3 separate regions of the Homo sapiens genome follow, and all the other regions are linked to region 3. The links come from fine-mapping of genetic effects on gene expression. A gene starts in region 3. Each other region holds a variant in brackets. All regions are shown on one strand. Distances are from middle to middle.

The links.
Region 1: its variant is fine-mapped to the expression of ELF3 in coronary artery (GTEx, PIP above 0.99).
Region 2: its variant is fine-mapped to the expression of ELF3 in whole blood (TOPMed, PIP 0.98).

Annotation. Positions count from the first base shown.
Region 1 is chr1:201,508,749-201,516,924 of GRCh38, reverse strand. All of the region lies in intron 1 of CSRP1-AS1 (CSRP1 antisense RNA 1), which reads right to left. LOC124904484 (a long non-coding RNA gene) reads left to right here. Exons shown (of 2, transcript XR_007066793.1): 2 at 6,924-7,201. Among named protein-coding and RNA genes, the nearest start is that of CSRP1-AS1, 5.6 kb to the right of the region's middle. RefSeq lists an enhancer at 4,500-4,709 and a silencer at 4,860-4,939. The variant G/A (reference allele first, on the strand shown) is at 3,719.
Region 2 is chr1:201,934,704-201,942,879 of GRCh38, reverse strand. All of the region lies in intron 1 of LMOD1 (leiomodin 1), which reads left to right. Among named protein-coding and RNA genes, the nearest start is that of LMOD1, 7.8 kb to the left of the region's middle. RefSeq lists an enhancer at 480-1,429. The variant C/T (reference allele first, on the strand shown) is at 3,170.
Region 3 is chr1:202,007,217-202,015,392 of GRCh38, reverse strand. It overlaps ELF3 (E74 like ETS transcription factor 3), which reads right to left and starts at 4,806. Exons shown (of 9, transcript NM_004433.5): 1 at 4,687-4,806; 2 at 4,094-4,264; 3 at 3,215-3,436; 4 at 2,957-3,049; 5 at 2,634-2,753; 6 at 2,357-2,446; 7 at 2,095-2,211; 8 at 1,369-1,564; 9 at 1-184. The coding sequence starts at 4,256. The coding sequence ends at 70. ELF3-AS1 (ELF3 antisense RNA 1) reads left to right here and starts at 5,040. Exons shown (of 2, transcript NR_146472.1): 1 at 5,040-5,593. RefSeq lists enhancers at 963-2,162, 2,972-3,906, 3,907-4,840, 6,567-7,208.

The DNA of each region.
Region 1 (8,176 bases), 500 kb after region 3:
TTCTGGCGCTCCTGGAGTGGCCAGGTCAGGTATGACTAAGAATTCATGGTATGGCCTCTCTGTATTATCTGACTCTCCTCCCTCCCTCCCTCTCCCCCCCTCCCTCCTTTCTTTCCTTCCTTCCTTCCTTCCTTCCTTCCTTCCTTCCTTCCTTCCTTCCTTCCTTCCTTCCTTCCTTCCTCTCTCCTTTCCTTCCTTGCATGAACTAGATGCTACCCTAGGCACTGAGCATACAGATATTGACCAAGATCTAATCCTGTCCTCAAAGAGTTCACAACCTCATGATTGTCCTCAGCCCCCTGTAGCAAAGGAAACTTTTATTGGGACCACTTCTTTATACCCTGAGCTATGAAGAGTAAATCTAACCTTTCTAAAGTCACATACATCTGCACTTAGTGGGGGCTCAGGTGATGGAGCTCCAGTGCTCATAAGCAAGTGAAAAACATAAGGTAGATTTAATATCTTGTAGTTCTTTAGTCCTTCTCATTGCCAGGGTGGGTCACAGAATGCCCATAGTAAAGGAAGCCAAAGTCTCCTTCCTCTTTGGGTCTCAGGGTCCAGATATTGTGTAGCTGGAAGCTCACTACTGAGACACTCAGCAGCTGCCAGGCAGGCAAACTCCCTATTTCCCACACAGCCAAGCTTGACCACCATTATTCCTGGCTCGTGCACCCTTTCCTATAAAGTTGGTGGTTGACATGGAAGATCCTGGACATTCAGGTCATAGTGCCATCAAGGGCCTTGGGCTGTCAACCTCTGCTGTGGTCCTTGATCTCACTCCCTATTCATCTCTGTGAAGCTGCCTTCTAACCTGGGGCTGTGTCTTATCTCTGACCCAGCTCTTGCTCATGCATGATGACTGCTCCCTGCTTCCCTGTATTACCCCCAAATGATAGCTGTTATGCCTTGTGGTTGCTTGTGAAACTGCCTTTGCAAAATTATAACTGAGGAAATTATGACAGTAAAGAAATCAGACCTACCTAACCATTTTGCTTCTAACCTTTAAGCTGTCCTTGTTCATTCCTGGGCATAGGTGGAAATAACTTTGCCCTGAAGGAATTCAGTTCATGATTTGACTCTAAAACAAAATTAATAATAGACCTTTCCCAAAAAGACCCTCTTCCTGCCTGGGGACCAGTCTGCCTTTGCAGGGCTAACAAATTAGCTACAAGATTCGAAATTACAGTTTAGGGGTCACGCAGTCTCTGGCTTGAAGAATCTGAACCTCCTTAAATTGTTCCTAGGGATAACACTACTGTTGTAAAACCTAAGATCAGTGCTTGAGATATCTTGCAGACCCTACACTCTGGGTGGATCAGCTGACACAACCCAGAACTGTAATCTGGCTCAACCAGTTCTGCCATCCCACCCAGGAACAGAAAATAGCACAAAAAACTCACTTCGACCCTCTATGATTCCATCTCCAACCTGAGCAATTAGCACTCCCCACTTCCCAAGCCCCTACTTGCCAAATTAAAACTCTGATCCCCGAATGCTCGGAGAGACTGATTTGAGTAATAATAAAACTCCAGTCTCCTGCACAGCCGGGTCTGCGTGAATTACTCTTTCTCCATTGCTATTCTCCTGTCTTGATAAATCGGCTCTGTCTAGGCAGCAGACAAGGTGAACCCGTTGGGTGGTTACACTTGTGTGCTTATCTTATCTCTCTTGCTACAATACAGTTTTTGTTAACTGTTGCTTTCTGGTTTGGCCCCTGCCTACTACTGTTTTTGAGGACTCAGCTTGGACACAGCATCTGGTTATTCCTGGTCACTTGCTATAAGAACACAAAGTCAATTCTCCCCCCTCTAAGAATCAGTCTTGGTAGGCCTTCACCCATGATTGCTAGTCCACTGCCTTTGCCAGCTGTGAGCTGCCATCCATCCCAGCCTCCTGTCTGCCCCTTGGAGTCCACTTCAAAAGTCATCTTCCTCTTCCTCAGCATCTTCTCTTCGAAGAAATGTTTCTCATAAGTCTTGGTGAAGATGGCTCAGTAAATACTTCTAAAACCTTATGTTTTCCCTTAGCAATGCCAAGTCTGTAAAAACCACTTTCTTTCCTAAAAATGCATTTCTGAAGGTACCATCAATGAAGATCTCTGCCTGAAATGACCTTCCTGCCAGCAGCAAGTTGTATTTTCCCCAAATGGTTGCAATAATGCTTTCCATTCCACATACTCTTCCAGAACCTTGCCACTCACACATCAGGAAATGGAGTCTCTGTCCCCTTCTTTGAAACTGGGTGGGGCTTCGTGACTGTCTCAACTAGTGGAGCACAGGGGAAGATCTGCTATGGGCCTTGCGAAGCCAGTTTTCAAAAGGCAAGACAACTTTCTCCTGCTATCTCTTGGGATGCTTCTCCTTGCAACCAGCCACCATGCTGTGAGAGAGTCCAGGCCCCATGGAGAGACCACATGTAGGGGTTCTGGCTAACAGCCTCAGCTGAGGTCCCAGCTGACAGCCAGCATCAGCCTCCAGCCACAGGAGTAAGGGAGACTCAGTGAAGAATCCAGCCAGCTCTCATTTGACTGTAATCACAGGAGAGATCCCAGCAAGAACAATCGGCTGAGCTTGGGAAAACCCTAAAACCATGAGAGAGAAAAACAAATGACCGCTCTGTTACACTACCAAGTTTGGGGTGGTTTGTTGCAGAGCAATAGGTAACCAGAATGCTGTCCATCTCCATACATTATGAGCCTAACCACCCTTTATGGCCCAGCTCATTAGCCTGTCATCTCCCATGTAAGCCTTCTCTGATCCCCACAATGGAGTTCTCTCCCTGTCTGAACTCCCGGTGCTCTTCCTGTGCCAGTCTCCTCTCCCACATCTGGGTGCACACTTCAGCTCTCCCCTCCCTGTAAAGTCTCCATTCTCCATTCATATCTCTCGGCACCTAGCCCAGTGCTTGGCACATAGTGGGTGCTCAATACAGGCTTTCTCTGTCTGGATGCGTGAAGGATAGGGAAAGGGATCTTGGGGAGAGAACATCTACCAGTGGAGAAGAGAGGGTCCTGAGTTGCAAAACAGCTTCCAGGGCTTTCAAAGGCCTTTTTCACTGACTAGTGTCCTAGGACATTTTTGGCTTCTCTGCTAAGAATGTAGGATATGAGTTAGAGTCAAAAGGATTTATGAATAAGTATCAAGTTGTCAGAGGTGTTTGAGCTGGAGCAACTCCATCTTGTGTAGGGGATGTGTAAAATAAGGCTGAGACCTACTGGGCTGCATTCCCAGACGGTTAAGGCATTCTAAGTCACAGGATGAGATAGGAGGTCAGCACCAGATACACATCATAAAGACCTTGCTGATAAAACAGCTTGCAGTAAAGAAGGATGCCAAAACCCACCAAAACCAAGATGGCGACGAGAGTGACCTGTCCTCACTGCTACACTCCCACCAGTGCCATGACAGTTTACAAATGCCATGGGAACGTCAGGAAGTTACCTTATATGGTCTAAAAGGGGAGGCATGAATAATCCACCCCTTGTTTAGCACATAATCAAGAAATAAGCATAAACATGGGCAAAAAGCAGCCCTCAGGGCTGCTCCGTCTATGGAGTAGCCATTCTTTCATTCCTTTACTTTCCTAATAAACTTGCTTTCACTTTACTCTATGGACTTGCCCTGAATTCCTTCTTGCGTGAGATCCAAGAACCCTCTCTTGGGGTCTGGATTGGGACTTCCTGTAACAAAGGGCTCCTTGGAAAGAAAGGATTGTCCAA[G/A]CTGAGGGTTTTCTTAGGATTACAGTGTATGGCCACTTGGGGGAGCCGAGGTGCGGCGAGGTGTCTTTCACAAGTTCACCAGCAGGTGGCAAGCTTATTCGTGGTTTCTTGCAAACTATGGATTTATCCACGCACACATTCATAAAATACTGAGCACCTACTCCATGTAAGGCTCTGTGTGGCTACAAAGGAGGGTAAGCTACAATTCCTGCCCTCCAAGACCTTCCAGGTGAGTGAACTCAATGTTTCCTTAGCTTGTCTTTGGGTTGAAATAGTTCTTCAAAAGTCATCCAATCCTTTCTTCTGTCAGTGTAATTTAATATAATCGACCCTGATGGAGGAGAGGAGTCAAGAGTCTTGCCAAGGCCGGGTGCAGTGGCTGACGCCTGTAATCCCAGCACTTTGGGAGGCCGAAGTGCACGGATCACCTGAGGCCAGGAGTTTGAGACCAGCCTGGCCAACATGGTGAAACGCCGTGTTGCAGGGTTTCTACTAAAAATACAAAAATTAGCTGGGTGTGGTGGCGCATGCCTGTAGTCCCAGGCTGGGAGGCTGAGGCAGGAGAATCGCTTGACCCCAGGAGGTGGAGGTTGCAGTAAGCATAGATCGCCCCACTGCACTCCAGCCTGGGCAACAGACTGAAACTCCGTCTCAAAAAAAAAAAAAAAAAAAAAAAAGAGTTTTGCCGAAAGTCTGGTTATTTTCAGTCTACTTCACTGCTTTAAGTAGATTGGCCAGGTGATCATAGATAAGATCAGAGCAGTGAAGGTGGTGTGGCTAGGGACCAGGAGAACAGGGAGAAAGAGATTTTAAAGCAGGAGGAAAGCAAACTGATCAGTAGATTAGGAGCTGGCGTGATTGGAACTGGGCCTGTCAGAAAAGCCTCTCCTGAGCCTTCAGCCAGCTCCCTGTGGCCACACTTCCCTAGAGCCTGTCAGGCTCGGAACAGTGGAGCCATGCACAGCCAGCTGCCCGGGAGCTCCCTGCCGCCTGCTCCCGCCCTGAGTCCCCAGCTCCTCCTGCTTTCCCCTCCCCACACTTTGGCTGTGAGAGCCACTCCACAGTTTTGCCTGTTTGGGACAGAGGCAGTGGCTGCAGAGGGAGCAGGAGGGAAGTGACCTTACATCAATTTCAGGCCAAGGGGAGGGGAAGAGGAAGTGGTCATTTAAAAACCTATCTAGACTGTTTCACAGTGTTCTTAAGGACCCAACCCTGAGCCACCCCAGTGCATTTCTGAATATCACCTTTCAAGCTCCCCTGGAGCTTCACAGTGTAAATTTCAGCCTGAAAATCAGAAGAGATTTCTGGATCAGGAACCCCCTAGAGTTTTTATTTTGTTCCTTTCTAAATGGATTTCTCCTTTTCTTGCCTCTAAGCATTTTATTCTTATAACATGTATACACTGCCTTTTCCGATTTTCATTTGCCTCTGGCTGCCAAGCTCATTTCTCCAGCAAACCCTGAGAGATTCTAGGAATCTTCCTTAGAAAACATGAATACAGGGACTGAAAGCAAATGCTGGGCCTTATTCCACAAGCCCCCTTTGACTTGCCTCATCCTAGCCTAGGCACAGCCGAACAGTGCCAGAGCCAGGGAGAGCCTTGCAGATCACCCACGTGGGTAGGCGGGCCTAGTCATATTCCCAGGGGCCCACAGAGATACTACCCACCAAGCACGATACATTTCCTAAGAACTCCATTTCTCTGAACAGTAAGTAATTTTATTTATTTATTCATTTATTTTTTGAGACAGGGTCTCACTTTATCACCCAGGCTGGAGTACAGTGGAGTATAGTACGGCTCACTGCAACCTCTACCTCCTGGGCTCAAGCGATCCTCCCACCTCAGCGTCCCTAGTAGCTGGGACTACAAGCATGCCACCATGTCCAGCTAATTTTTGTATATTTTGTAGAGACTGGGTTTTACCATGTTGCCAAACTTGGTCTCAAACTTCTGGACTCAAATGATCCACCTGCCTCAGCCTTCCAAAGGGTTGGGATTACAGGTGTGAGCCACCGTGCCTGGCCAGTGAGTCATTTTAAACATTATCTTTTTATGAAGACAAATACAGTTATGTGCCAAGGAGAATGCAAAATTCAAATAAATTTTTGCAATAAACCCCAAGACTTCAAGGACTGGGAGTGGATTGATTCTGACAACACTGTGGGTTCCTTACATTTACTTCTTTGCTGTCAGAGGTACCTCAGTGGAAATTTTGGAGAATACTGAGTTAGTCCAACCTCCCATTTCACACATGAGGAAAACTGAGGCCTAGGCCATGGTCACAAAGCTACTAAGTTAGCTACTGCTGTAAGCCCTGGTCTCCTCACATGCAAAGCAGGGGGTAAAAATAGTCCTTACTTCATACAGCTACTGCGAAGATTAAAGGGGACAATTGTGTAAAGTACCTGACAGGTAGTAAATGCTTAATAATTATAATTATTCCTCATTATCAACAGTATTTTATTTGTTTTTTGTTTTTTTGAGACACAGTTTCACTCTGTCACCCAGGCTGGAGTGCAGTGGTTGGATCTCGCCTCACTGCAACCTCCACCTCCCAGGTTCAAGCGATTCTCTTGTCTCAGCTTCCACAGTAGTTGGGATTACAGGCACATGCCACCATACCCGGCTAATTTTTCTATTTTTAGTAGAAATGGGGTTTCACCATGTTGACCAGGCTGGTCTTGAACTCCTGACCTCAAGTGATCTGCTGGCCTTGGCCTCCCAAAGTGCTGGGATTAAGGCATGAGCCACTGCGCCAGCCATCATTAGTATTTTAAATCATAGATGACAGAGCTGAGACTCAAACTGCAAGTTTAGGGCTGGATTTTTTTTTTCTTTTTTTAGACCATTAGATGAGTAAACTTCTTGAGGTCAGGATCCAAATTATAGGCTTCCTTGTATTCCCAGAACCTAGAGACCAGCACAGAGTGGGGCCCCAATAAATGTCTTCTGAGTGAATGGTTGGATGGATACATGGATGAACAGGTGGATGGACGGATGGATGGATGGATGGATGGAGGGAGGGATGGATGGATGGAGAGACAGATGGATGAACAAATGGATGGATGGGTGAATGAATGAATGGATGGATGGACAGATGGATGGAAGGATGGACAAGAAGATCTCCAGCCCAGACTGGATCTCTAATTTCTCTGGGATGATGAGCAGAGCTAAGCCAGACACATTCCCTTACTCTTTCCTCAGCCTCACACTCAGGTCCTCTTCACTTGGGATCAATGCGGAAAAGAAGGGTTTCACCACAGGAGAGGAGAGAGAAGATGTAGCATCAGGATGCTGATGAGGGAGGAAAGAGAAGAAAAGATGCCAGAGGAAGCAGCAGACAAAGTTGGAAGCTGGAGGACAGGGGCCCTACTTCCTGCCTGTAACAGGCCCCACTTCATTCCTAGCAGCCATCAAATACCAACCCAGAAGTGTTGGGAAATAGAGTGCACAGAGAGAACATAAAGATACTGAAAAGGTTAGACATTTGTGAGAGTCCTGAGAAGCAGGTAAGCCCCTAAGTGTGCCAAGCCTCCTTCTAGAACCCCTAGCAGATAATTTATTGGTGATGAGCTCTGACTGCATTGTCTCTGCAGATGTGGGTGCTGCTGACCAGCTCGGGCCAGTCTAGATATGGTTATATAAATGAGGTCAGCCAGAATGAGAACCTCTGCAGAATGAGAATCTCTGCCTTAAGGATGTCCCAAGTATTGATGATGTTTACTGATTTTTCTGTCATTTCAACATCAGGCTTGTTCCTGTTTGCATGGTGGGTAACCCCAGCATCACCTTTGACTCAACTCAATCCCAAAGCCCTTCCTCATCCCTCAAGTCTTCTTTATCTGCAAATGTGCTATCTAAGACCAAGCCCAAGTAACTGGCAGCAGGCTGGGAGAATAATATAGTCAGAAGGTGAGAGGTTCTGGAAAAACACCAAACAAGGCAGGTCCTACTTGGCTTCATCTGTAGCTCTGCGTAGACAGCTCCTAAGACAAGTGACCTGACAGTCTTTGGGTGGAAAAGAGGGGTGACCATCTGCCCTGGACTGCCTGAGATAGTCCTGTTGCCTTAGTGTAGTTACGAATACTACCACATACCACTTACTATCCAAAGCATTCTGGTTTAGATGACACATTGTACAGCCATTCTGTTTATAAGGTGCTTTAAGATCTGGGAGAAATCCAAGTGTGACTGCAGTGACTGCTCTTCTTTTTCTGGATCTACCCTAAAGCCATTTCACAGCACAGGTTGGCATGTCCTCACAGGGAAATCTATCAACAGTCCCATGACTCCAGAGAGGACAAACCCAGACCAAAGAAGGTAATGTAGGAGTTTGCCCTTTTGTAAAATCCTGGGCAAAACTCCGAGGCTCATCTCTCCAAGATACTGAGAATTGAAAGGAGAGGGGGAAATCCCATGGGATCGCCATCTTTGGGCGGAAGCCCTTGGTCTCTGAC
Region 2 (8,176 bases), 73 kb after region 3:
AAATATTTATGGGAAAAATTTATTGGCTTTGGGAATTAGCCTTAAAATAATCTGGGTGGGGGTATATATAGATGAAACAAGATTGGCCACCAGTTGACAATTGTTGAAGCTGGGTGATGGGTCTACATGGGTGTTCATTATATTATTTTTTCTACTTTTGTATGTATGTTCGAAAATTTTCATAATAAAATTTAAAAAAAAAAAAGAAAGAAAGAAACCAACATTGGGAGGTTGGCCTTAAGACAGTCTTAAGGTCTGTCTTTTCCCCAGAAGGACAGCCCCAAGATGCATACTCTGGCTATTGTGCAAAGTGAGTCTAGGCTGCCAGAGGGCCCTTGGCCTGCTTCTCCCTCCAGGGTCTCCCTCCAAGGGATGGGATATTCCAGAGATCCTCCTGATTGTTTACCATCTTTTTCATGAATATTCCACCCTTGCCTCTTCCAGGTCAACTCCTATTTGTTCTGCCTGTCTCAGGTACCACTTCCTCCAGGTAGTCTTCCAGGACTCCCTCAAGGTCAGGCACCTTGTCTGAGCGCTCCAATACCAGTCTGTACCAAAGCCCTTGGGACATGACTTTTGTATAATCATCTGTTTTCTTGGGCTGTCTCACTCACCAGCTTGTGGGACTTGGAGGGCAAAATGCAAATGCAGGGCCCAGCACACAGCAGGCCTTCAGCCTCTGTTTGTTGAGTGAATGTTAGCAGGGGATTGGGGAGGGTAGAGGTGGGACTTGGAAGAATTGACCCCAGCTTCTCTCCCTCCCTTTAAAGGGCCAGACCTGTCAGCCAGTGTAGCTCCGCCCTAATCATCCGGGAACTCTCCTTCAGCCCAGGTAGAAGACAAAGCCCCTGGGCAAGCTGTAGCCAACGGTTCAGTGAAACTCTTGTCCTTGTCTCAGGTTTCAGGAACCGGATCCCAACCGGTCAACTTGTGTGTCCTCTTTCCTTCCCAAGTGGGAAAGAAAATCTCCAGCCTGCCTCCCCCTCCCTTCTCCCTGGTGTTAGCAGGGGCTGGGGATTAGCGCCTGTACCCAGCCAGGGTCAGGGCAGCTGAGCTGGTGGGGGTGGAGGAAAGCTCTCCCTAGAGGTAAACTCGAGAAGCAAACCCGAAGCAACCTACTAATAGCGGCTGCTGGGCCTGAGCCCTCCTGACCTTCCACTCCCACTGCCTGCACAGCCTCAGCAGCCCCCTCCCCCATCGGTTCTAGTTCACAGCTCAGTGTCCATGGTATCTCTACGGGGCCGGGAAGGCCCGAGGCCGGCGGCCTAACCCTCAGAATGCCCTTTGCAGAGGGTTGGGACCTATCAGGAGTGCACTGAGCAGCACGGCTCAATGCTTAAGGAGATTAACCCCAACTGGTACACACCCAAAATAGCCCTGGAGGCTAGGGTGAAGAGGGCAGAAGAGGTGACGGGGGCCTGTTGACCCAGGGAGGCAAAAGCAGGCACCGGAGAGGGTTAGACTGTTAAAATCTCGCCCTGAAATTTGAAACTGCCTCCATCCAGAGTTTGAAAAAGCAACTGCTTGTTTCTTAAACTAGGTGGTACAATCCACAGGTGTTTGTTTTAAATATTGTTATTATACGTTTTCTTCTGTATGTATATAATATTTAAAGAATTTTGAGGGCAGGTGTGATGGCTAATACCTGTAATCTCAGCACTTTGGGAGGCTGAGACAGGAGGATCACTTGAGTTCAGGAGCTCGAGACTAGCCTGGGCAACATAGCAAGACCCCATCTCTAAAAAATTAAAAATTAAATTAAAAAAAAAGAATTTTACCAGCCTGGCCAACATGGGGAAACCCCATCTCTACTAATAATACAAAAAAAAAAATGGCCAGGCACGGTGGCTCACACCTGTAATCCCAGCACTTTGGGAGGCCAAGGCGGGTGGATCACCTGAGGCTGGGAGTTCAAGACCAGCCTGACCAACATGGAGAAACCCCTTCTCTATTAAAATACAAAATTAGCCAGGCATAGCGGCACATGTCTGTAATCCCAGCTACTAGGGAGGCTGAGGCAGGAGGATTGCTTGAACCCGGGAGGCGGAGGTTACGGTGCGCCGAGATCGTGCCATTGCACTCCAGCCTGGGCAACAAGAGCAGAATTCCGTCTCAAAAAAAAAAAAAAAAATGCTGGGCGTGGTGGTGCATGCCTGTAGTCCAGCTACTTGGGAGGCTGAGGCAGGAGAATCACTTGACCCGGGAGGCGGAGGTTGCAGTGAGCTGAGATCGAGCCACTGCTCTCCAGCCTGGCTGACAGAGCAAGACTCCATCTCAAAAAAAAAAAAAAAAGACTTTGAGCAAGTGAGGCATTAGTGCCTGCTCCCACCCTCAGTGCTGCCCTCTGGGTGCCTGCCTTCTCCTTACTGGGACAGTAGGTATAAGAGCTTGGTTAGGCCGGGTGCCGTGGTTCATGCCTGTAATCCCAGTGCTTGGGGAGGCCGAGGCGGGTGGATCACGAGATCAAGAGATCGAGACCAGCCTGGCCAACATGGTAAAACCCCATCTCTACTAAAAATACAAAAATTAACTGGGTGTGGTGGCGCATGCCTGTAGTCCCAGCTGCTCGGGAGGCTGAGGCAGGAGAATCCCTTGAACCCAGGAGATGGAGGTTGCAGTGAGCCGAGATCGTGCCGCTGTACTCCAGCCTGGCAACAGAGCAAGACTCCATCTCAAAAAAAAAAAAAAAAAAAAAAGAGCTTGGCTGGATGGAAAATGCAAGAGGGAGGCAGGACAGATGGACAGGACCAAGGAGCACTTGTAAAATAAGATGGCTCACCAGTGAGAGCGGGATATAGATGGTTAAGAGGTGGGGTCTGAGTCCCACTAACCAAGGGGAGGTTGCTCCCAGCATCAGAGAAGGCTGGAGGCTTCAGGGATTCTGGGAGCTTCATGGTCCCCAGGCTGGGACAAGAAGGTGAGGACAAAGCCCCGGTCTTATCTGTCTATCCTCCTTCAGTCTCTCTTTCTCTCCCCCAGGAGACTTTAGAGTATCTTTGTCAGACCGTGTCAGCATATCTACAGCTGGGCCCAGAGTGTGCAGAGCCTGAATGAAGCACACCAAGAGATAGGCAGTCTACACACATGTGTATACACACACACACACACACACACACACAGCAGGAGCAGAGGAACAACACACAGCGCCATGCATGGGGGACAGGAGTGG[C/T]GACGCTAATATTTACATGCCTGCCAAGTTGGATAAACAGGAATATCCTGAGCCATAGAATGCAGGCCTTTCCAGATCAGGCCCTTCCTTATTTATTGGACCACTTTTGTTTAACCAGCAAAAGAGCAGTGGTCTCCATTCGGTTCATCAGTTCTCCCAATGGCTTGTTAGTGTCTGGGCAGTGCGGTGAGACAGAAAGCCCAGGGGTGTCTGGAATCAGATAGGTCCAGGTTTGAATTCTGCTCCTGCCCCTTACTGATCCAGTGACTTGGAATAAGTTACCCAAGGAAGAAAGAACATTAACTTGATTGAGTGCCTTCTGGAGCCAAAGGCTTTATCGATGCTATCTCATTAACATAGCTTCTTGAGGCCCAATTACTTCACCTGTCAAGTGGGGATGATAAAATCATCCTTGAAGGGTTATAGTGAAGATTAAATAGGATGAGGCATTGAAAGTGTTTGGCACATCACGAGAGACCTTCTTTCCTCACTCTAAACTCTTCAGAGTTTGTACCTGTATATCTGCCAAATCAACATTATTTTATCTCTCACGAAATTAAAAAAAAAAAAAACCATCAGTGAGTGTGAAGGAATGATGAAGAGAGAGGGGAAGGGGAGGAAGGAAAGCAGGGAGGCAGGGCTTATGTAATTACTCGCTGCCTGGCCCCAGCAGCCTGATTTCTTTGAGCCTCTGCCTAATTTATTTTATGTCACAGGCTCAGGGGCCCAAACTGAGTTGCTGGGTTGGAAAAAGACAGAGTGAAAGGAGATTAGGAGAAGATTTTGAGGTGGATTCTCCTTGTCTGCAGGCTTCCACCCCAGCACAAGCTCAGAAAAGCCAAGGCTGCTTTGGGAGAACTTGGCTTCAGCTGTCCCTGGGGCCCACTGCAGAAAGAACAAGCCGGGTTGTCGGGATGCTGTTTACAAACAGCTAGGAATAGAAGCACCTCCTGTTCCCACACCCTTCCACCACCCTTTCATGGACAGCCCACAGGCTCCTTCTGATTGTTACTTCAATAGGCCTTCCTTTGAGATCAAGCCGGCAGGGCTGGCAGGACCCCTGTCCCTGAGACTGGCAGGTGAAAGGTGCTACATCCTCAGGCAGAAATTCCCAGGGAAGCTCTGAGTGCAGACTATATGAGTCTAGTGGTTAGAATAGTCTCCTCAGGGGCCAGCTAGACCTGGGTGCAGATCCAGCTCTGCTGGTTGCTGGCTGAATGACCCAAACAAGTGACTTCACGTCTTGGAGCCTGAGTTTCCTCACCTATAAAATGGAAATTACGGCCGGGCGCGGTGTCTCATGCCTGTAATCCCAGCACTTTGGGAGGCCGAGGCGGGCAGATCACCTGAGGTGGGGAGTTTGAGACCAGCCTGACTACCATAGAGAAACCCCGTCTCTACTAAAAATACAAAATTAGCCGGGCGTGGTGGCACGTGCCTGTAATCCCAGCTACTCGGGAGGCTGAGGCAGGAGAATTGCCTGAACCCAGGAGGCAGAGGTTGTGGTGAGCTGAGATGGTGCCATTGCACTCCAGCCTCGGCAACAAGAGCGAAACTCCATCTCAAAAAAAAAAAAAAAGGAAATTACAATGCTTAGTCATAGGATAGTTATGAGGTTTCAGCAAAATAATCCACATAAAGCACTAAGCAGAGTGCTGGGTTGGAAACCTAGTAGTAAAGGCCCATGAACATTAGTTTCCTCCCTTCCCTTCACTCCTATCCGCTCCTCCCATTCCCATTCTCTTCATTCGTTTTATACACAGAATTCATGAATCATGCTTTATGTTTACAAGGAGGGAGGAGGACTCCATTAAATCATTAATTTGCCAGCTCTTTAATGAGTTCCTATTATGTACTTTCTAAATGCCAGGATAGAGTAGTGAACAAGAGAGACAAGGTTCTTGCCCTCATAGAGGTTACAGTCTATGTTTGTTTGTTTGTTTTTGAGACAGGATCTCACTCTGTTCCCCAGGATGGAGTGCAGTAGCATGATCTTGGCTCACTGCAACTTCCATCTCATGGGCTCAAGCAATCCTCCCGCCTCAGCCCCCAGAGTAGCTGGGACTACAGTTGTGCACCACCATGCCCAGCTAATTTTTTTGTATTTTTAGTAGAGATGGGGTTTCACCATGTTGCCCAGGCTGGTGTCGAACTCCTGGGCTCAAATGATCTGCCCACCTCAATCTCCCAAAGTGCTGAGATTACGGGCATGAGCCACTGTGTTTTTTGTTTTTTTGTTTTTGTTTTTTTTTGTTTGTTTGTTTGAGACAGGATCTTACTCTGTTGCCCAGGCTGGAGTAGAGTAGTGCAATCTCAGTTCATTGCAGCTTCAAACTCCTGAGCTCAAGGGATCCTCCTGCCTCAGCCTCCCAAGTAGTTAGGACTACAGGTGTGTCCCACCGCGCCCAGATAATTTTTAAATTATTTGTAGATACTGGGGTCTCCCTATGTTGCCAAGGCTGGTCTTGAACTCCTGGGCTCAAGTGAGCCTCCTGCCTTGGCCTCCCAAGTGCTGGGATACGGGCATGAGCCACCACACCTGGCCAAGGTTACATTTTAATGGGTGAGACAGACAATATATATATTTCCATATGCAGATCATATGTAGCATGCATACACATAACATGTAACATATGACATATATCTTCTAAAAAAGAGTAATGTCAGTTAAGGGAAGAGTATATGACATATCAATGGGAGACCACTTCCAACAAAGTAGTCAGGGTCTTCACTACCAAAAGAGGTGACATTTGAGCAGATTCTTTTTTTTTGAGACAGAGTCTCACTCTGTTGCCCAGTCTGGAATGCAGTGGCGCAATCTTGGCTCACTGCAACCTCTGCCTCCCAGATTCAAGCAATTCTCCTGCCTCAGCCTCCCGAGTAGGTGGGATTACAGGTGTCTGCCACCACACCCAGCTAATTTTTTTGTATTTTTCAGCAGGGAGGGGGTTTCACCATGTTGGCCAGGCTGGTCTCGAACTCCTGACTTTGAGTGATCCACCAGCCTCGGTCTCCCAAAGTGTTGGGATTACAGGTGTGAGCCACCACAACTGGCCCATTTGAGCAGATTCTAAATGGACCGAAGGAGCTAGCCTTGGGAAGATGTGGGGAAAAGCTTTCCAAGCAGAGGGAACATCAAAGACACAGGCCCTGGGGTGGGGGCAGGGTTAGCATGTCAGAGGAAAAGCCAGGCCCCAAAACTAGAGCAGGAGGAGTGGGGAAGGAGCCTGGAGGAGACGAGGCCTTGGAAGTAAGCAGGGTTCCGATCATGTGGGGACTTTTAGGGCAGCAGAGTTTGACTTTTTATTCTAAGTGCCATGACTTTTTATTCTAAGTCATTGGAGTGTTTTGAGTAGGGGAGAGATGTGATCTAATTTATGCCTTTAAAAGGCTCATTCTTCCAGCTTTCAGATAAACAGACTGTAGGGGGGCAAGAGTGCAGAAATGAGACCAGTTAGAAGGGTGTTTCTGTCTCTCAGGTGAGAGCTCAAAGATGGTTTGATGAGAAATGGAAACTGGCTGATGCACTGGGGGAAAGAGAAGAGTCGGGGTGATCAGTACTGCCTAAGCTATTGGGTGAATTTGATGTCTTTTTTTTTTTTTTTTTTTTTTTTGAGACAAGGTCTGGAGTGCAATGGTGTGATCTCGGCTCACTGCAACCTCCGCCTCCTGGGTTCAAGTGATTCTCCTGCCTCAGCCTCCTGAGTAGCCAGGATTACAGGCGCCTGCCACCACGCCCGGCTAATTTTTTGTATTTTCAGTAGAGACAGGGGTTTCACCATGTTGGCCAGGATGGTCTCGAACTCATGACCTCAGGCAATCTGCCCACCTCGGCCTCCCAAAGTCCTGGGATTGGCCAGGTGTGGTGGCTCATGCCTGTAATCCCAGCACTTTGGGAAGCTGAGGCGGGCAGATCACTTGAGATCAGGAGTTCAAGACCAGCCTGGCCAACATGGTGAAACCCTGTCTCTACTAAAAATACAAAAATTAGCTGGGCGTGGTGGTGGGCACCTGTAATCCCAGGTACTCGGGAGGCTGAGGCAGGAGAATCGCTTGAACCCAGGAGGTGGAGGTTGCAGTGAGCCAAGATCATGCCACTGCACTCCAGCCTGGGTGACAGAGTGAGACTGTCAAAAATAAATAAATAAATGAATAAATAAATAAATAAAACTAAAGTGCTGGGATTACAGGTGTACAGGTGTGAACTACCATGACCGGCCAAATTTGATGTCCTTTACTGCCATGGGAAACAGCAGAGAAGGAGTGGTTTTGGGAGGTGAAGAATTCTGATTTGAACAAGTTAAGTTTGTTGTGCTTAGTAGACCCCCAAGGGGAAATGTTGGGTTGACAGGGGTTGCACTCCAGATCTTGTCTCAAAAAAAAAAAAAAAAGGACATCAAATTCACCAAATAGCTTAGGCAGTACGGATCACCCCGACTCTTCCCTTTCCCCCAATGCGTCAGCCAGTTTCCATTTCTCATCAAACCATCTTTGAGCTCTCACCTGAGAGACAGAAACACCCTTCTAACTGGTCTCATTTCTGCACTCTTGCCCTCCTACAGTCTGTTTATCTGAAAGCTGGAAGAATGAGCCTTTTAAAGGCATAAATTAGATCACATCTCTCCCCTACTCAAAGTCTGGGGCTCAGTGGGAAGAGGGGATGGGAGATTAAATTTGGGATTCATCAGTCTGTGGATGCTACTGAAAGCCATGAGCCTAGAAGAGATCACTTAGGGAATAAATGTGAATGGAGGAGAGCAGAGGGCTGAGGCCCCAGCCCTTCATTATACCTACATTTAGGTGTTGGCAGAGGAGAAGGAGCCAATGAAGAGACTGAGAGGTAGAGGAAATTCAGAGTGGTTTCACCAAATCAGGTGAGAAAGGATTTCCAGAAGGAGAGAGTACTGTACCACATCCATTCTTGCTGAGAGGTTTAATAAGGTGAGACAGAGAATCAATCACAGTAATTGGTAAGATGGAAGCCATTGGAACCTTGGCAAGAATGAT
Region 3 (8,176 bases):
CTGTCCTCCCAGGAAGGTTTGCAGGCCTCGAGTGGTCCGTGAGTTTGGTCCCGGGTATAGTTCCAACCCTCAGTTCCGACTCTGGAGAACCTCTTCCTCCTTCCAGCCGCTTGAGTTTTTGCCAAACTTGTAGACGAGTCGCCGGCCATCCACCCGTTCCAGGATCTCCCGTTTGTAGTAGTACCTGGGTGAAGAGAAGGATGGTCAGAGGTGCTTTGGCAGGAAATGGGCCCCAGGCTGCCAGCCCGCCCACCTGGCCCGCGTTACCCCCAGGTAACCCATGCCCACTGGTCTCTGCCTGACTAAGCTGAGCCTGACTCACACTTCCTAAACTCCTCTGTTCTTCACACTGGCAAGCAGAAGCTCTTTCCCTACACTGGCCTGTAACCGTGCCCAGGACACAGGGCTCTTTGCCTTTGCTTCTTTGTATCCTATGGCTGTGACTGGGGTCTGATCATTAAATTACATGACTTTTAAGGCCAGGGAGCTGGGCACGGTGGCTCACACCTGTAATTCCAGCACTTTGGGAGGCTGAGGCGGGCGGATCACTTGAGGTCAGGAGTTCGAGACCAGCCTAGCCAACATGGTGAAACCCCCGTCTCTACTAAAAATACAAAAATTAGCTGGGCATGGTGGCAGGTGCCTGTAATCCCAGCTACTTGGAGGCTGAGGCACAAGAATCACTTGAACCCGGCAGGCAGAGGTTGTAGCGAGCCAAGATTGTGCCACTGCACTCTAGCCTGGGTGACAGAGCGAGACCCTGTCTCGAAAAATAAAAAGAAGAAGAAGAAAAAAGAAAAGGCCAAGCATACTGGCTCACACCTGTAATCCCAGCACTTTGAGAGGCCGAGGCAGGAGAGTCATTTGAGGCCAGGAGTTTGAGACCGGCCTGGCCAACGTAGAGACCCTTGCCTCTATTTAAAAAAGAAAAAGAAAAAAAAAGTAAGTACATGATTTTAGGGCTGGACGGGATCTTAAGATGATCTAGTGTACTCCTGGACACAGGAGGAAACTGAGGCCCAGAGAAAAACAACCTAAGTGCTTCAACGAGGAGAAAGCCAGGCCCTGGGTGGGCACGGCTCCTGCCCCCTTTCCCACTCTCCAGGTGCCTTCCTGAGGACAAGCCTCACAGGCGATACAAGAAATGTTGCTGCTAGCTCAAGTGCACTGTGTCTGCTGTCTGCCAGGCTAATACTTTCTCCATGTTGTCATTTAATCCATGAAGTAGACCAACCCAGATGTTGTCCTCACTCTAAGGACTCAGCCCTGTTGCAAGAAGCCAAGTGGCAGCCAGAAAGAGGGCGGTGGGAGTGTGAGCGCCTGTCCCCATGTCCGGCTGTATCGTGAGGGTCCTGGCCGCCAGCTCACCTCATGGCCCGGCTCAGCTTCTCGTAGGTCATGTTGCTGTTCTTTTTCTTTTGGCCCCATAGTTGGGCCACAGCCTCGGAGCGCAGGAACTTGAAGACGCCTTCATGCCGATTCTCCCACTTCATGAGGCCCTCGTTGAGCTCCGGGTGGATGAGGATGTCCCGGATGAACTCCCACAGGTGGGTGCCTCTGGGCGCTGCAAGGCCAGCCTCCATCAGTTTGCCATCCAGGTGTCCCCTCTCACCCAAGGCCAGCCAGCCCTGCCCGCCCCAGTGCACTGCTGACTTGGCCACAGCATGCAGCAAGCCTCTCCAGAGACCCCGCAGTGCCCTCTGTGCGGGTACTGCAGTGACTGCTTTTCTCCTCAGCCCACCTAAGACCCACCAGCTGCCTCCTCACATTGAGGGTGTCCCAGAGGGCAGGACAGTGGCCAAGTGCAGAGAGAACTGGAGTCAGTGGACAGGACACTGGAGTCAGTGGACAGGACTCTGGTACCATGAGCCTCCCACTGGGAGCCTTATTTCCTCCTCCTCTCCAGGACCACCAAGCCAGGCTCTGCAATTAGGTGGTGACCGATACCATAGAGCCCCCAGCTTGTGCACAGCCTTACCAAAGGCCATGCGGAGGCCAGAGAAAACGGGAGAAGGGATACCTGCAACAACCCGCAGTGCCCCAGGAAGCCGCTCAGCCCGGCGCAGGGAGGACCCACGTGCCCCCGGAGCTCACCGTGCTTGCTCTTCTTGCCCTCGAGACAGTCCCAGTACTCTTTGCTCAGCTTTCGGGGCCGGCCTCGTTTCCGCTTCCCGTGCTTGGGATCCCCCTTCTTGCAGTCACGAAAACCATCTGTGGGGACGGTGGTGGAAGGTCAAGGAGGGGCAAGAGGGGAGTTAGGGAGAGTAGCCCCTCTACAGGAAAAGGCTGCAGGAAGAGCCGGGCCCCCTGTGCATTGCTAAATGGGACGCCCTCTTGGGGACCTCCCTCGACTCACCGCTGGGGAAGAGCTTGCCATCAGTGGGATCCAGGTCCACGTCACTTCCACCGGAGTCTGAGGAGTGGGAGCTCCGAGAAGCACCAGTCCCTGGGGGGCGGGGTCAGAGTAAGTCCCCTGCCGGCCCACCCTCTGCTCAACCACGCTGCTGGCTCTCAGGACACACTTCCCAGCCTGTTCCTGTTCCTGCCAGAAGGCCTGAGTTATGGTGCTGGGAGCCAGAGGGAACAAGGGACACTTCGGGGAAGGGAGGTTGTGGCCCAGAGAGAGCTCTCACCTGCGGTGGAGACGTCAGAGCTGCCAGGGGAGGGGGCTCCTGCGCCACAGCTGCCGGGGTGGTAGGGGCTGGCTTGCTGACCGTCGTCCAGCAGCTCCTGGGCAAAGGGGCTGCCCTGGTCTGGGAAGAGGAGGTGAGAACTCAGAGAGGGCTCAGGGGACCAGACCAGGACAGGTGATGCTGCCCATGGGTCTGATGACCTGCTGCAATTTTTCTAATTGAGGGAGGAAGAAGTCTGGGGAGGGGGTCATCTCTAGCACTCTGTGGAGGGGCAGGGATGGGACAAGACAGGCTGGGGAAGGAAGGAGAAAACGGGTTCTCACCAAAGGGCCCTGGGTCTAGGGCCTCCTGGAAGGCCATGCCATCCTTCTCCAGCAGCTCAATGATCCAACTGAGCTCATCAGAAGAGCTGGAAGCTGACAAGGAAGGAAGGAAGGGTCACACTCCCCTAATCCCTCCCTCAAGGGCTCTCTCTGGCTGTGCAGCTGGCCCAGAGCTCCAGGGCCTGCCTACGGCCACACTGAACTCGACTCAGCTCAACATGTGGAGCTGCTCCCCAGCCTCCAGGGGCCTGGACTCACTGAGGTCTCGCAGCTGGGCATGGAGTTGGTCCCCCAGAGGCCCAAAGACCAGACGCAGCTCCTCAAGGGCACAATTGCAGAGGGTGGCGCCATCCATGTCACATCGTGAGAAGTCAATGGCGCTTGCGTCGTACTTGTTCTTCTCCACTTGGTAGCTGATCCAGTCCAGAACCTGCGTCTTCGACCAGAACTGGGGCTGTTCCCCCAACCAGCTGGCCTTCTCTGCAAGGGCCAGGCAGGGAAACAGGCTCAGCTCAGGCCACCCAGCAGACCTTACAGCCCCATTTTTTTTTTTTTTTTTGAGATGGAGTCTCACTCCTGTCACCTAGGCTGGGGTGCAATGGCACAATCTCGGCTCACAGCAACCTCCACCTCCCAGGTTCAAGCGATACTCCTGCGTCAGCCTCCCCAGTAGCTGGGATTATAGGTGCCCACCACCACGCTGGGATAAATTTTTTTTTGTATTTTTAGTAGAGACGGGGTTTCACCATGTTGGCTAGGCTGGTCTCGAACTCTTGACCTCAGGTGATCCGCTCAGCTCAGCCTCCCAAAGTGCTGGGATTACAGGCGTGAGCCACCACTCCCAGCCCACACAGCCCCATTCCTGGAGCACACTGGGGATTCACACCTCAGCCCTTGGAGCCATCCCAAGAGTAGGGGCAGGAGGTAGCATTCACAACACCCTTGTCCTGGTATCTGACACCTCCCTCTGCCTGTCACAGCCCCACAACCCCCAGCACCTCAGTCACTAAGTCTCAGCCTCTAGCCCTGGAATTTGCCTAGAGACCCTCCTCCCTGCCTATTCCCCCATTTGTCTAACAGGCCCTTAGATGGATCTGTCTCCCACTCCGTGCCCCATCCCACCCCGCTGAGACCCACCTGTACCCTCCAATGACATCTGGGGGTTGCTCAGGGTCAGTACCAAGTCATCGGCCCCAAAGGTGGCAGCAGGGGGAACAGAGGCCAGGGTGGAGTCCTCCGAGCTGTACATCGCACTGAAGTAGTTGCTAAAAATGTTGCTAATCTCACAGGTTGCAGCCATGAGGCTACCTGTGGGTAGGGGGAGAGAGGATGAGGTTGGTGAGGGGACGAGGGTCCTCTCCTTACACTCCCAGCTACTCTGCTTTGCCCAACCCTGGGCAAGAGTAGCCCCCAGGGGCAGGAAGATCAGCAACTCTGCGGACACCGTCTCTTCAAGAAGGGCTCCAAGATCTCAGACCAGGGCAGGACCACAGGAGCCTCCAGCTGGGCTTCCCTCCTCAGATCTCTGGGGCCCTGGAGCCAGACTAGCGGCGTCATGGCCATTCTGCCTTCCCAGAGACAATCTCTCTCTGTTCTTTGACCCTCAGGACACCTACGCTCTTGCTCGGAGATCCTAGACTGGAGTGTGCAGGTTCAGAACTGCAAATCCTCTGGACCCCTCTGCAGTTTCCCAAGAGCTGGGCTAGGGAATGACAGGCGGGGAATCCTACCGGAGTGGCGGAGTCCGGCTGTGGCAGGCAGGCCGGCAGGCGGGAGAGAAATCCAGTTCCGCCAGGTAGCGCTGAGGTATCTGGCCGCTGCGCTCCCCTACCCGGCTCTAAATAGAGCCTGGAGGGAGCTCCTCCCTGAGCTCAGGGCTTTATAGTGTGTCCCCTGCAGTAACCTGAGCTGGTGTCTCATTGGATGGAGGGGATTTCCTGGCCTTTAGACTGGGCTCCTGGCCCCAGGTGATTTGCATATTCAGTGCCACTTGGCCCGGATCTTAGCAGGCAGTGCTGGGAAATCAGGCCCGGCTGGTTTAATGATTGTCAGAGTCTGTCATCCCGCACCCTCTGGGGTTGGGCACGGGGCACTGGCCTGGGCAGGTGGCGGGAACGTTGCTGGGGTGGGCATCTGTGCTTTCGGCTGCCCTCTGGCCCAGGAAATTCCTCCCAGGGGCCAGGCCAGAGATGGGCCAGGCAGGGGGAGGGCAAGTGAGGGAACATGAACCCCTGGCTGACCTGAGTCAGAAAGCTGCTGGCCCCTAAATTCCAGAGATTCAGCAACAAAGAGGCCTAGTAGGGAGAGGAGTTACTAGGTTTAGGGGTTTTTCCCAGAACACCCAGGACTCTGGCCAGGGGCTGGAAGGTGCTCCAGGCTCAATGCTGGGCAATACTCATGGATTAATTGGTGCTGGCTGGGCCTGCCAGCCTAGTCGTGGCCCCAGGGTCCCCACTAAAGGGCTCCTTCTCCAGCGCCCACTCTGTTGGCAAGGTCTTCACTACCATCACCTGCCTGGACTCCATCCAAGCATCAGGGTTGCTGCAGTCGCTCCTGAAGAGACCCGGCTCTGCTTGAAAGTTCTTCCCTCAGCGCCTGCTGGAGCCCTCCCTGCCGGAGTTGCCAGAATCCACACGGGTAAGTTCATCCCTGCTCTCTGGACCCCATCTAATCTCTGGTTCACTCGGCCCAGTTTTCCAGTACCTTCTGCTGCCCTCTAGTGGTCAGAAGCCTGACTACCTGGGTCACGTCATTCAAAGAAGAGGGAATGCATAGTATTAATATATTTACCAAGCACTTTTCAACATATTCTCTCATTTAATCCTCACACCAAAAAAGTCCTGTAAGGAATGCATGGTTATTCCCATTTTATAGACATGAAAGTTGCAGTGTGGAGGGTTCCCTTAGAATGGCTTGCCCAGGCCACACAGAGTTGGTGAAGGGGTGGAGCTGAGATTCACATCCAGGTATGCAGGTGTGTTGTACACAAAACCCTCGCTCTTTCCCTGCACAGGATTCAATGTCTTCGGGCTTCAGAGTCTTCCCATCCAGCTCCATGGCCAGAGCCCTTGCCTTCCCTGTGGGCAGAGTCCCCCATGTCTGTGGTTGTCTCTATGGACTCAGCCCGAAACACAATGGATAGTGTCTTATAGACCCTTCTTGAGACCCTGAATGGGGTAATACAGGTGGTTGAGGCAGGAGACTTGTAGCCAGCATCTGCAACTGTGTGATCTTGGATGAGACCCTTGGAGTCTGTGCTTGTTTCCCCATCTATAAAAAATGAGGTTGTCTGAATTTAATAATCCCTAAGATCTCTTCCAGATCTAGTATTTTGTTTATTTTGTTTTGAGGTGGAGTCTCGCTCTGTCGCCCAGGTTGGAGTGCAGTGGCGTGATCTCTGCTCACTGCAACCTCTGACTCCTGGGTTCAAGCGATTCTCCTGCCTCAGCTTTCCGAGTAGCTGGGATTACAGGCGCCCGCTGCCATGCCCGGCTTTCTGTATTTTTAGTAGAGACGGGGTTTCACCATGTTAGCCAGGATGGACTCGATCTCCTGACCTCATGATCTGCCTGCCTCAGCCTCCCAAAGTGCTGGGATTACAGGCATGAGCTACTGCGCCCAGCCCATATCTAGATTTTTATGCATTTGAAATGTAGGATCCGGTGGCTCACACCTGTAATCACTGCGTCTCAAAAAAAAAAAAACAAAAACAAAAAAATGTAGGATCTGTGTGACCCCCCTCCATTAATGCACAACTTGGGGAGTTCCTGGCCACCCTCAGCCAGGGTGGGTGAAACGGTTACTCAAACAAAAGGTGACTCCACCTTCTACAGATACTTCTTTCTTTAACTCTATAGCCTGAGGACTAAGAAAGTCCTGCGCAGAGAATCTGCTTCTTACCTTACCTTCTTCCTCTCTGAAGCTCCCAGGTGCCTAGGAGAGAGTTAATGTCCAGGATCCCCCCGCCCCCCCGCCCCCGCACTGGGCCAGTGCAGGCAGGAGAGCCTGGGGCTCAGTAGGATTTTCCCCAGCCCTTCAGGGGGCCTCCCCCAAGGAGCCTGAGGCAGGCACACCCTCCACCCAGTCCCTCACCCAGGAATGTGGGAGAACCGGCTTCTAGCCCCAGGGCTGCTCACGTGCTCCCTGCCCTGAAGAGCATCTGGCTGGGGCTCCCGGGATGGCGGGGTGAACAGGAGGATGTACGAGAAAAATGAGAAGGCTGTCAGCTCCCTTGCCTTCTTGGGGCTTCCTCACCGCTGACATGGAGCTGAGATAAGGAATCCCTACAGGCTGGCAGCTTGAGATAAGTGAGAAAGACTTGGATTTGAGGTCAGTGCCTTGGAGGCATGGGGATGGGGGTGGGGAGAAGGTTCCAGGATAGTGGTGAAGAGAGCTATGGAGCAGGATGCCAGGGGCTTCCCAGTATTCTGTGATGGCAAAAACAACCCACTGGCCTCCCCTCTCCCCACAGAGCTTGCCCACACGGCAGCACAGCCTCATCTTTGGGATGGGAGAATGTCCTACAAAAGGACAGGCACATCCAGTAGTCCTGTCAGGTACCAAGGTGGTGAGTGAGGCAGGCTGCACAGCTCAGGATACCCACGCTATGTAATGGGAGACCCCACAAAGTTAGTGGAGTCACAGCACGGCTGTTAGAGGAAGGGCTTCCAGCCTTTCCTTGCACTGACCCTTCATGATTACTGGGCCTATTGGTGCTATAGGTTTTTGTACAGAGCAAGGAAAGATAGCTACTGATAAGCTAGATAAAAGGTTGGGGAGAGGGGGAGACAACTGGATAGCCCTAAAATAGTCCTTGCCAATAACATATTGCCAGGAACAGTCCTGAAAGAGCCACGGAAGCAGTTTGCTGTCAAAATGCCAGTGCCTGGAGAAGCTCTTCCGATACCGGGCCTCCAGATCCCTCACCTATGACCCACATCACCCTCTCTGATGGTGGAGCTGTGTGCCACGGGGCAGAGGCCTCTCCAGTCTACCACTTGGTCACCACTAGTCCCTTGCTCTTGCTGAGTGAAAGCAAATCGACTCATTCCCAACCCTTGTGCAGGGGAGGGAGGAAGCCTGTTCGATAACCTAAATCCGAGGACAGAGCAGAGCTGCGAACAAAGCCTGTTTCAGGGGTGCCCTGTATTTAAGAAAGGCAAATGAAACACACTAAATATTTCTTCCAACCCTCCCCTCATCCCACTCCCAAACCCAGAT